Homo sapiens: one gene and its partners. The protein of the gene in region 1 interacts with the protein of each later gene in a pairwise test. Each region holds a gene or a part of one and is shown in the gene's direction. Other genes may lie near its edges. The genes, in order: HSD17B13, PLIN3 and SPG21.

Evidence for each region.
Region 2: the proteins of HSD17B13 (region 1) and PLIN3 interact in binary tests that used the Homo sapiens proteins (3 or more experiments, as listed by UniProt).
Region 3: the proteins of HSD17B13 (region 1) and SPG21 interact in binary tests that used the Homo sapiens proteins (3 or more experiments, as listed by UniProt).

What each region holds. Positions count from the first base shown.
Region 1 is NC_000004.12:87,309,249-87,312,900, reverse strand, and holds part of HSD17B13 (17-beta-hydroxysteroid dehydrogenase 13 isoform A precursor), read left to right. Parts: intron 1-2,541; coding exon 2,542-2,658; intron 2,659-3,652. UniProt on the Homo sapiens protein: Plays a pivotal role in hepatic lipid metabolism. In vitro, it catalyzes the oxidation of a variety of lipid substrates, including 17beta-estradiol, retinol, retinal, and leukotriene B4.
Region 2 is NC_000019.10:4,861,045-4,864,696, reverse strand, and holds part of PLIN3 (perilipin-3), read left to right. Parts: intron 1-3,285; 5' UTR 3,286-3,302; coding exon 3,303-3,368; intron 3,369-3,652. UniProt on the Homo sapiens protein: Structural component of lipid droplets, which is required for the formation and maintenance of lipid storage droplets. Required for the transport of mannose 6-phosphate receptors (MPR) from endosomes to the trans-Golgi network.
Region 3 is NC_000015.10:64,976,263-64,979,914, reverse strand, and holds part of SPG21 (maspardin), read left to right. Parts: intron 1-3,359; coding exon 3,360-3,440; intron 3,441-3,652. UniProt on the Homo sapiens protein: May play a role as a negative regulatory factor in CD4-dependent T-cell activation.

The sequences.
Region 1 (3,652 bases):
TTTAGTAGAGACGGGGTTTCACCATGTTGGCCAGGCTGGTCTCAAACTCCTGACCTCAGGTGTCCTACCTGCCTTGGCCTCCTAAAATGCTGGGATTACAGGAGTGAGCCACCATGCCCGGCCAAAAAAATAAGTTTTTAAAGAATTAAAGGTCATCCTGGCTAACACAGTGAAACCCCGTCTCTACTAAAAAACACAAAAAAATTAGCCGGGCGTGGTGGCGGGCGCCTGTAGTCCCAGCTGCGCGGGAGGCTGAGGCAGGAGAATGGCGTGAACCCGGGAGGCGGAGCTTGCAGTGAGCCGAGATCGCGCCACTGCACTCCAGCCTGGGCGACAGAGCGAGACTCCGTCTCAAAAAAAAAAAAAAAAAAAAAAAAAAAAAGAATTAAAGGTGTTAATTTTATTTAGAAGCCTTACTGAAGACTACAGTCGGAGGCCTATAGCCTGAGAGCAGCCCTTTAGAGAGGTTCAGTTGAACTGTTCTGATAGTGGGGGCCATGTGCTCTATCCTGTATTGTCTTCAAAGCATCTTTCCAGAGAGCTGCACATTGTCACAGAGTCAGGGACTTTGTGAAATTATGCTGACAACCAGAAGTGAGTAAACGTGGCTTCTTACATTTGCTACGTTGTCTCACAGTACTTAATAAGTATGCAATATGTAAGTAAATACTATAGTACTATTGCAACTCCTGATTGTTTTCTTAGACAAGGAATTGGGCCCAATAAAAACCCTCTTGGTAGGCATTCAGGCTTCGTGTACCATGAGCTTTCCTAAGGGTATCCTGCCACTCTTGGGGAAGGCATGATAGATGAGGGGAGTAAGGATAATGGAACTCTGGGTACAGGGTTCCTGGGGGCTAACTTAGAGGTAGACACAGGCAATGCTAAATATTTGGGATTGATTTTATAGAGGTTGCTAGATTGTGAATTTCCTTAGTAAGGGCTAAGGCATTGATATGTAATGTCACACTTGGCTCCGAGGCTGGGTTGTTGGATCCATGTAGATGAAATCAGGGAGAGAAAGGGCAGAACGGAGTAATTTAGAAATGTATTGATTTGTATTACTCTCTGTTGGCTTGCTATTCAAGGCAGTGGAGAACTCAATCACATAATAATCTGCAGCAAACCACAGATCATCCCAGGGAATGAAGTTTTAACATTCGCTGGCTCCCTAACTCCTCACCCAGCCTTTACATTCACTGGCTGTTCAGTCCATGCCTGGACATCTTAATTTGAATACAACATTTTAAATCCATTTTTCTGTCATCATCTTGCACTAACAGACAATTCTACACTAAGCCTATGTTTATGAATATTTCTCAAGAGTACATGTACACAGCCTTCAGTATAAGGAAAACTGGAAGTATGACATACCTCCAGTTGTCATACTCCTTGGGCCCCTCTTAAATTCTCATTAAACTGCAGGATAGGCAAGTCAGAGGTGAATCTCAAATACGAAATTCTTACCGGAAAGGGGTTCCAATCCAGACCCCAAGAGAGGGTTCTTAGATTTCTCGCAAGAAATAATTCGGGGCAAGGCCACAGTGCAAAGCAAAAGCAAGTTTATTAGGAAAGTAAAGGAGTAGAGAACAGCTACTCCATGGAGAAGAATGGCTTGAGCTGCTCCACCAAGGGTATTTAGAGTTACTTCTTGATTATATGCTAAACAAGGGGTGGATTATTCATGAGTTTTCCGGGAAAAGGGTGAGCAATTCCCAGAACTGAGATTTCCTCCCCTTTTTAGGCCATATAGGGTAACTTCCTGCCATTGCCATGGTATTTGTAAACTGTCATAGTGCTGGTGGAAGTGTCTCTTAGCTTGCTAATGTATTATAGTTAGCTTATAATGAGCAGTGAGGACAACCAGAGGTCACTTTCATCACCATCTTGGTTTTGGTGGGTTTTGGCCGGCTTCTTTACTGCACCCTATTTTATCAACAAGGTCTTTATGACCTGAATCTTGTGCCAACCTCCTATCTCATCCTGTGACAAAGAATGCCTTAACTTCCTGGGAATGCAGCCCAGTAGGTGTCAGCCTTATTTTACCCAGACCCTATTCAAGATGGAGTTGCTCTGATTTAAACGCCTCTGACAAAATGACGACCTCAAAACAATCCAGCTTTATGGAATACCTCCACAAGAAAGAAAGTATACTTAGCTATAGAATTTTCTCCTTGCATCCAACAGGCTTTGAGATGTCAGATGTTTCCTTCCTGTCCCATGATTAATCCTAGCCATTCCTCTTTCTTGTCTGGCTCCACTACTCCTTACCATCTAATGCCTCGCCACCATTTTGATATTTTGACTAAGTGAGCTATGAAACACACCTACTGGATATGAAAGTATAAGTTTCTGATAACAAAACATCAACATGGGATGTGGAGGAAGTGGGTAGGGTGGCATTAATGCAGCAAATCCTGGAATATTTTAAATCTTCATTCTAAATTTAGTAAAAATATAGGATAATTTTCCTGCCATCATTTACTTATAAAATTAAAATTTTAGAAAATAAAAATAATATTTTCCTCTTTTTAATCACAGATTATGGCCTGTATTGGAGACAGATGAAGTCGTAAGAAGTCTGATAGATGGAATACTTACCAATAAGAAAATGATTTTTGTTCCATCGTATATCAATATCTTTCTGAGACTACAGAAGTAAGTACAGCACAGAACACCCAAATACTAAAACACCAATAGAGCTTTTTTTTTTGCTTTTTTTTTTTTTAGACAGAGTCTCACTCTGTCACCCTGGCTGGATTGCGGTGGTTGCAGTGGCATGATCTTGGCTCACTGCAACCTCCGCCTCCTGGGTTCAAGCAATTCTCATGCCTCAGACCCCCAAGTAACTGGGATTATAGGTGTGTGCTGCCACACTACACCCAGCTAATTTTTGTATTTTTTGATAGAGACAGGTTTCCCCATGTTGGCCAGGCTGGACTCGAACTCCTGACCTCAAGTTATCCTCCTGTCTCGGCCTCCCAAAGTGCTGGGATTACAGTCATGAGCCACCATGCCTGGCCCAATAGAGCTATTATTATGGAGCATCTTTCAGTTGTGAAAATTGGCATGGAAACTCTCCATCCCTGGGGAGAACAGTTATTTCCTCTGTTATTTTCCTACCCAGTCTATAAAAAGAGAGTGATTCATTTTCTCTACCAAATCTACTGTCTCTGCCCAAACTTTGCTGAAGACTATTCTAACTAAAGGAAACACAGTTTAAAAAGAATGCAATATAGTGAAGTAGTTAATAATAAAGACTCCATTTTTAAAAGTCTGCTGGAAGTTTGGTTGGGATTGCACTGAATCTATAGAGCAATTGGGGAGTATTGACATATCAACAATATTGAGTTTTCTAATCCAAGAACATAATATCTATTTTTAAAATCTTCTTCAAAATCTTTAAATCTTTAAATTGTATTTTGTAGTTTTTGGTGTTTAAGTCTTGCACATATTTTGTCAGATTTATTCCAAAGTATTTCACGGGTTCTTTTTTTTTTTTTTTTTTTTTTTTTTGAGACAGAGTTTCACCCTTGTTGCCCAGGCTGGAGTGCAGTGGCGTGATCTTGGCTCACTGCAGCTTCTGCCTCCTGGCTTCAAGTGATTCTCCTGCCTCAGCCTCCCAAGTAGCTGGGATTACAGGCACCTGCCC
Region 2 (3,652 bases), on another chromosome or scaffold:
CCACACCCCTGACCTGGACTTCATAGCTCTGCGGTGCAGGCAGGCATGTTATCTCACTTTTTAAAAAAAGCCTAAATTTTGGCTGGGTGCGGTGGCTCACAGCTGTAATCCTAGCAGTTTGGGAGGCCAAGGTGGGCAGATCCCTTGAGCTCAGGAGTTCAAGACCAACCTGGGCAACATGGCAAAACCCCATCTACTAAAAAACAAACAAACAAAACAACAACAACAACAAAAAAAAAAACAAACCACGGCTGAGTGCAGTGACTCATCCTGTAATCCCAGCACTTTGGGAGGCTGAGGCGGGTGGATCACGAGGTCAGGTGTTCAAGACCAGCCTGACCAACATAGTGAAACCCCATCTCTACTAAAAATACAAAAAATTAGCCAGACGTGGTGCACACCTGTAATCCCAGCTACTCAGGAGGCTGAGGCAGGAGAATCGCTTGAACCCAGAAGGCGGAGGTTACAGTGAGCCGAAATCACGCCACTGCACCCCAGCCTGGATGACAGAGCAAGACTCCCTGTCCAAAAAAAAAAAACAAAACCACACACACACACACACACACACACACACACACACACACACACACACACACACTAGCCAGGTGTGGTGGTGCGTGCCTGTAGTCCCAGCTACTTGCAGGGTCAAGGTGGGAGAATTGCTTGAGCGTAGGAGACAGAGGTTGCAGTGAGCCAAGATCGCACCACTACACTGCAGCCTGGGCGACAGAGCGGAAATCCGTCTCAAGAAAGAGAAGAAAGTTTGCCCTATTTAACACATTTTATCCCTTGACTAGATCTTTGTTCATGTCATGTCAGTTACATTTAGTCTTTTGTTTGTTTTGTTTTGTTTTCTTTTTTTTTTTTTTGAGATGGAGTCTCGCTCTGTCACCCAGGCTGGAGTGCAGTGGTGCAATACCAGGTCACTGCAACCTCCACCTCCTGGGTTCAAGCGATTCTCCTGCCTCAGCCTCCTGAGTAGCTGGGATAACTAAACATGGAGGCGTGCACCACCACGCCTGGCTAATTTTTGTATTTTTAGTAGAGACGGGGTTTTGCCATGTTGGCCAGGCTGGTCTCCACCTCCTGACCTCAGGTGATCCTCCTGCCTCGGCCTCCCAAAGTGCTGGGATTAGAGGTGTGACCCACCACATCTGGCCCATGTGAGTTACATTTAAATCTCTTTTTTTTTTTTTTTTGAGACAGAGTTTCGCTCCTGTTGCCCAGGCTGGAGTGCAGCGGCGCGATCTCGGCTCACTGCAACTTCCGCTTCCCGGGTTCAAGTAACTCTCCTGCCTCAGCCTCCTGAATAGCTGGGATTACAGGCATTCGCCACCATGCCTGGCTAATTTTATATTTTTAGTAGAGATGGGGTTTCTCCATGTTGGTCAGGCTGGTCTCGAACTCCTGACCTCAGGTGATCCACCCGCCTTGGCCTCCCAAAGTGCTGGGATTACAGGCGTGAGCCACCGCACCCGGCCTTTAAATCTCATTCTTTAGCCACTGCATTGGGATACACTTATTTTTGTTTTTGTGTTTTGAGACGGAGTCTCACTCTGTTGCCCAGGCTGGAGTGCAGTGGCGCGATCTCACCTCACTGCAACCTCCGCCTCCTGGGTTCAAGCGATTCTCCTGCCTCAGCCTCCTGAGTAGCTGGGATTACAGGCGCCCACCATCATGCCTGGCTAATGTTTGTATTTTTAGTAGAGACGGGGTTTCACTATGTTGGCCAGGCTGGACTCGAACTCCTGACCTCGTGTTCCACCCACCTCGGCCTCCCAAAGTGCTGGGATTACAGGCGTGAGCCACTGTGTCTGGCCACACTTGTTGTTTTCTTATTCCCCTTTTGCTGGGCATCCAGGTTGTTTCCAGTGTCATGTTGTGGCCAGTAAGTCCACACAGCTCTGCTCATGTGGAAACACAGGTGTGGGTTCTTCCCCGAAGTGAGGTTTCTGGGTCAAGGGGAAGATGGCTCTTGGAACTTGACAGCTATTGGCAAATTGTCCTCTACAGAGGTTTTAGGTCATACCTGGCTTGCTGGAGTACAGGTGAGCCCTGAAGGGACTGTTCCCAAGCCTTGCTTCCTGACGTGTGTCCCAGGGACCAGCTGCATCAACACTGCCTGGGAGCCTTTTAGAAATGCAGGGTCAGGGCCGGGCATGGTGGCTCACTCCTGTAATCCCAGAACTTTGGGAGTCCAAGGCAAGAGGATTGTTTGAGACCAGGAATTCGAGACCAGCCTGGGCAACATAGCAAGATACCATTGGCCAGGCACAATGGCTCACACCTATAATCCCAGCACTTTGGGAGGCCGAGGCGGGCGGATCACGAGGTCAGGAGATCAAGACCATCCTGGCCAACATGGTGAAAACCCGTTTCTACTAAAAAAATACAAAAAATTGGCCAGGTGTAGTGGCACACGCCTGTAGTCCCAGCTACTGGGAAGGCTGAGGCAGGGGAATTGCTTGAACGTGGGAGGTGGAGGTTACAGTGAGCCGAGATCGTGCCACTGCACTCCAGCCTGGCGACAGAGCAAGACTCTGTCTCAAAAAAAAAAAAAAAAGATAACATCTCTACCCAAAAAGAAAAAATTAAGTAGGCGTGGTGGTGTGTGCCTATAGTCCTAGTTACTTGGGAAGCTGAGGCAGGAGGATCCCTTAAGCCCAGGAGTTAGAGGCTGCAGTGAGCTGTGATTGTACCACTGTACTCCAGCCTGGGTGACAGAGCAAGACCCTGTCTTTAATGAGAAAAAAAAAAAAGAAAGGATCAGGTGTGGTGGCTCACACCTGTAATCCCAGCACTTTGGGAGGCCAAGGTGGGTGGAACACAAGGTCAGGAGTTCAAGACTAGCCAGGCCAATATGGTGAAACCCCGTCTCTACTAAAAATACAAAAATTAGCTGGGCGTGGTGGTGGGTGCCTGTAATCCAGCTACTCGGGAGGCTAAGGCAGGAGAATTGCTTGAAACCAGGAGGCGGAGGTTGCAGTGAGCCCAGGTTGCCCCACTGCACTCCATCCTGGGCGACAGAGTGAGACTGTCTCCAAAGAAAATAAAGAAAAAAAAAAAGAAATAGGGGGCCAGGTGAGCCCCATCCCGAAGCTTTAGAATCAGCACTTGCTATTGAACAAAGTCCAGAGGTCACTCTTGTGCCTGCTAAGGACTGAAAGACACAGCTGTAAGTCATGGGCAGGTGTGAACCCTGTCTTCCAGCTGCAGCGTGGGCCTGGACTTTCTCCTGGAAGGTGGGGCCAGGCAGGCTGTACCTGACTGTTCCTCTCTCCTCAGCGTCTGCTGCAGAGACCATGTCTGCCGACGGGGCAGAGGCTGATGGCAGCACCCAGGTGACAGTGGAAGAACCGGTACAGCAGGTGAGGAAGGGCCGGGACCAGGGACTGCCCCGACCCTGTGATTCCCGTGCAAGGAGGCTTCCCACCCCAGGGTGCCCTGGCAGGGAGCCAGGGATCTGCCGGCAGCTCACGGAGCCAGAGGGATTTATTCCTCAGTGGGGTATGGACCACTCACTGGTGTCCCCAGTTGGGAGGGGGGAATCTCAAAGGCCCTTGGAGGGCCTGAGGGAGCAGGGTTCTGTCTGAAACTACCTGCCCTCCCCAACCCCTGAGCCAAATCATCCTCACCTCTGAAGGCTCTCTCA
Region 3 (3,652 bases), on another chromosome or scaffold:
CTCTGGGAGAAAGGTGTGTGGGAAAGGCACTCTTCCTGGTGACTGATTTTTTTTTTTTTTTTTTTTTTTGCATGCTTCCACATTGGTCAGGACATTGGTCTCCTAATTTTCCAGGAAGGAGAGAGTCTCTTTAGCTGGCAGTCGCCTGCAGTATTCACTTGTAAGTGGTACTCCCAGTGGGAGTACTGCTGTTAGTGTACGTTTTATTTACTGTTTAAAGGGATGAAAAGGCAGGTCACGTCTCTCCTTTTGGAAGGTAACTGAAAATTCTACTGAGGTTACCACCAACTGAGGCCACACAAAGGAAATCAGTTCCTCTTCCTCCTGAGAGCCCGTCTCTTACTTGAGAAAACAGTTATCATCACTACCTGCTGCTTTTCTCCTGGGTCTTTTCTTCTCTGGCTTAATTTCTCCAGCTTCTTTAACCATTCCTCACGTGACATGTTTGAGCCTCTGCAACATAATCCTCCTTTGTTCAGATTTTCAGTCATTCCTCTTCACAAACAGCATTCTAGAACAGGGTGGGAACTGCCCTCATCCCAGCCCTCTGCAGCCTGAGACATGACACTACCATTTTTGGTGGCCCCTGTTGATCAGCCAGGGAGGGGGAAACCGAGCAACCCATAGGCGCCCGTCCCACTCGGGAGTGCTGTCCAGCAGTGTGTTTCTCGCTCCACAGTGGCAGGTCATGAGAGCCTTGGCTTCTGGCTGGATGTTTCTTCTTCACTCTCAAGGTTCTTGTTGTGCGCTTTCCCTGTTTCATTAGGAGGAGAGTTAATCAAGAAAAGGTCAACAGTGTCTTCAAAATTATTTTGTCATCAAGATGTGATCAGAATGTTCAGCTCCATGAGGTTTTGGAACTTATTTAATATTTGTTAGTATCTAGCAGTTAAAATGCACAGATCTTTTTAATTTAAATTTTTTTGTTGTTGTAATTGTAGATTCACATGCAGTGTAAAAAATAGTAAAGAGAAATATACCTTTTACACATTTCCCCAGTTTCTGCCGAACCTTTGCAAAACTGTAGTACAAAATCACAACCAGGATATTGATATTACTACAATCTACCAATCTCATTCAGGCTTCCCCAGTTCTGCTTGAACTCATTTGTTTGTATGTATTAAGTTGCATATAATTTTGTCACCTGTGTGGGCATGGATATTTATAAATTAAAGACTCCATGAAAGTATCATCCCCTTTCTTTTAGGCTATCATCTGACTCAAATTCTCAAACTTTCTGCTAGGTAGAATCAGTTCCCCATTCTTTCTTGGAATGGTGGAAGTCTTATCCACAAATAGAATTTTAATAATGAAAGTCATACATCAAATCTAAAATGATTCCATAATTCATATGGCAGTATCCATTCCAGTGATTCATCAATAACAAAATGAACCTAAGTGCTTAAACAGTAAGCCTGTTAGACGAGGTTTTTGGGGGAGTTTTTTTGTTTTTGTTTTTGTTTTTTGGAGATGGAGTCTCACTCTGTCACTCAGGCTAGAGTGCAGTAGTATGATCTCGGCTCATGCAACCTCCACCTCTCAGGCTCAAGCAATTCTCATGCCTCAGCTTCCCCAGTAGCTGGGATTACAGGTGCCTGTCACCATGCCTGGCTAATTTTTGTATTTTTTAGTAGAGATGGGGTTTCACCATGTTGTCCAGGCTGGTCTCGAACTCCTGACCTCAAGTGATTCACCCGCCTCGGCCTCCCAAAGCGCTGGGATTGCAAGCGTGAGCCACCACGCCCAGCCAGTTGGTTTTATATGTATATAAAAAAGGAATTCTTGGCCAGGCGCGGTGGCTCACGCCTGTAATCCCAGCACTTTGGGAGGCCGAGGCAGGCGGATCACAAGATCAGGAGATCGAGACCATCCTGGCTAACATGGTGAAACCCCGTCTCTACTAAAAATACAACAACAACAAAAAATTAGTCGGGTGTGGTGGCACATGCCTGTAGTCCCAGCTACTCAGGAGACTGAGGCAGGAGAATCGCTTGAACCTGGGAGGTGGAGGTTGCAGTGAGCCGAGATCGCGCCACTGCACTCCAGCCTGGGCGACAGAGCGAGACCCCAGTTCAAACAAACAAAAAAAAGGAATTCTTAGGGGACAAACCTGAGTCCCTTAGAAATGAGTTTGTGACTTGTACTTCTTTTTCCTCATCATTGCCAGCATTAATAGATAGGCTACGTATAGTCAAGTACCATACTTCTTTTGTCACAAACAGAAGTACAGTAGCCTGGCATGGTGGCTCACACCCGTAATCCCAGCACTTTGGGAAGTTAAGGCAGTTATATTGCTTGAGGCAGGCAAATCGCTTGAGCCCAGGAGTTCAAGACCAGCCTGGGCAACGTGGCAAAACCCCATTTCTACAAAAAAGTATACATATAAAAATTAGCCAGGCATGGTGGTGCATGCCTGTGATTCCAGCTACCGGGGGGCTGAGGTGGGAGAATCGCTTGCACCCAAGAGGTTGTGGCTGCAGTGAGCTACAATCGTGCCAATGCACTCCAGCCTGGGTGAGAGAGAGTGAGACCCTATCACAAAAACAAACAAGCTGGGTGGAGTGACTCACGCCTAAAATTCCAACACTTTGGGAGGCCAAGGCAGTTAGATCACTTGAGGTCAGGAGTTCGAGACTAGCCTGGCCAACATGGCAAAACTGTGTCTGTACTAAAAATACAAAAATCAGCTGGGTGTGGTGGTGGACATCTGTAATCTCAGCTACTCAGGAGGCTGAGGTAGGAGAATCGTTCAAACCCGGGAGGCGGAGGTGGCATGAGTCGAGATCGCGCCGCTGCACTCCAGCCTGGGCAACAGAGGAGACTCTGTCTCAAGAAACAAACAGACACCCCAAAGTACAATAAATGAAATAGAGTAACTAAGTCATTTAAAAGAAGAGGAACAATTTTACTGAATACCCTCTTAAAGAAATGCTACCAAAAAGAGAGGAAGCTCTCCTTAGAACAAATTTTGTTTCCATCTCTCCTGAGCCATAATTCTGAATGAAATTAGATTTAAGAGAAAACGGTATTTCTTTACTGGAATGGGTTCTGCTGTATTCATCCTTGAACCCCAGACTTTTTCAGCTATTTAGAAAGGAAATTGATGGGAATTGAAATTGTTACTCACGTAATATCATTAGAGTGTGCTTACTTTTTATACTCTTTTAATTTGGTCTGTTAGAAAAATGTGAAATATGAAGTTTAGTAAAAAGTGAGAGCTTATTTTTACATATTTTGAATAAGGAGCAGCGCTTGAGCAAACGAGAAATGTCAGTGTTTGAGTCCTAAGTTTTTCAAATACGTGAGTTGCATTTTTACTTTTATGATTTTTAAAAATAAAATTATCGTTATTATTTCAGTTGCAGTATCCAGTTTATTGGGACCATCTCGAGTTCTGTGATGGATTCAGAAAACTTTTAGACCATTTACAATTGGATAAAGTGAGTACCCTGAAACTAATTACATACATACAATTTTTTTTTTATTTTTTGAGATGAAGTCTCACTCTGTCACCCAGGCTGGAGTGCAGTGGCGCGATCTCGGCTCACCGCAACCTCCACCTCCCGGATTCAAGTGATTCTCCTGCCTCAGTCTCCAAAATAGCTGGGATTACAGGCGTGTGCCACCATGCCCGGCTAGTTTTTGTATTTTT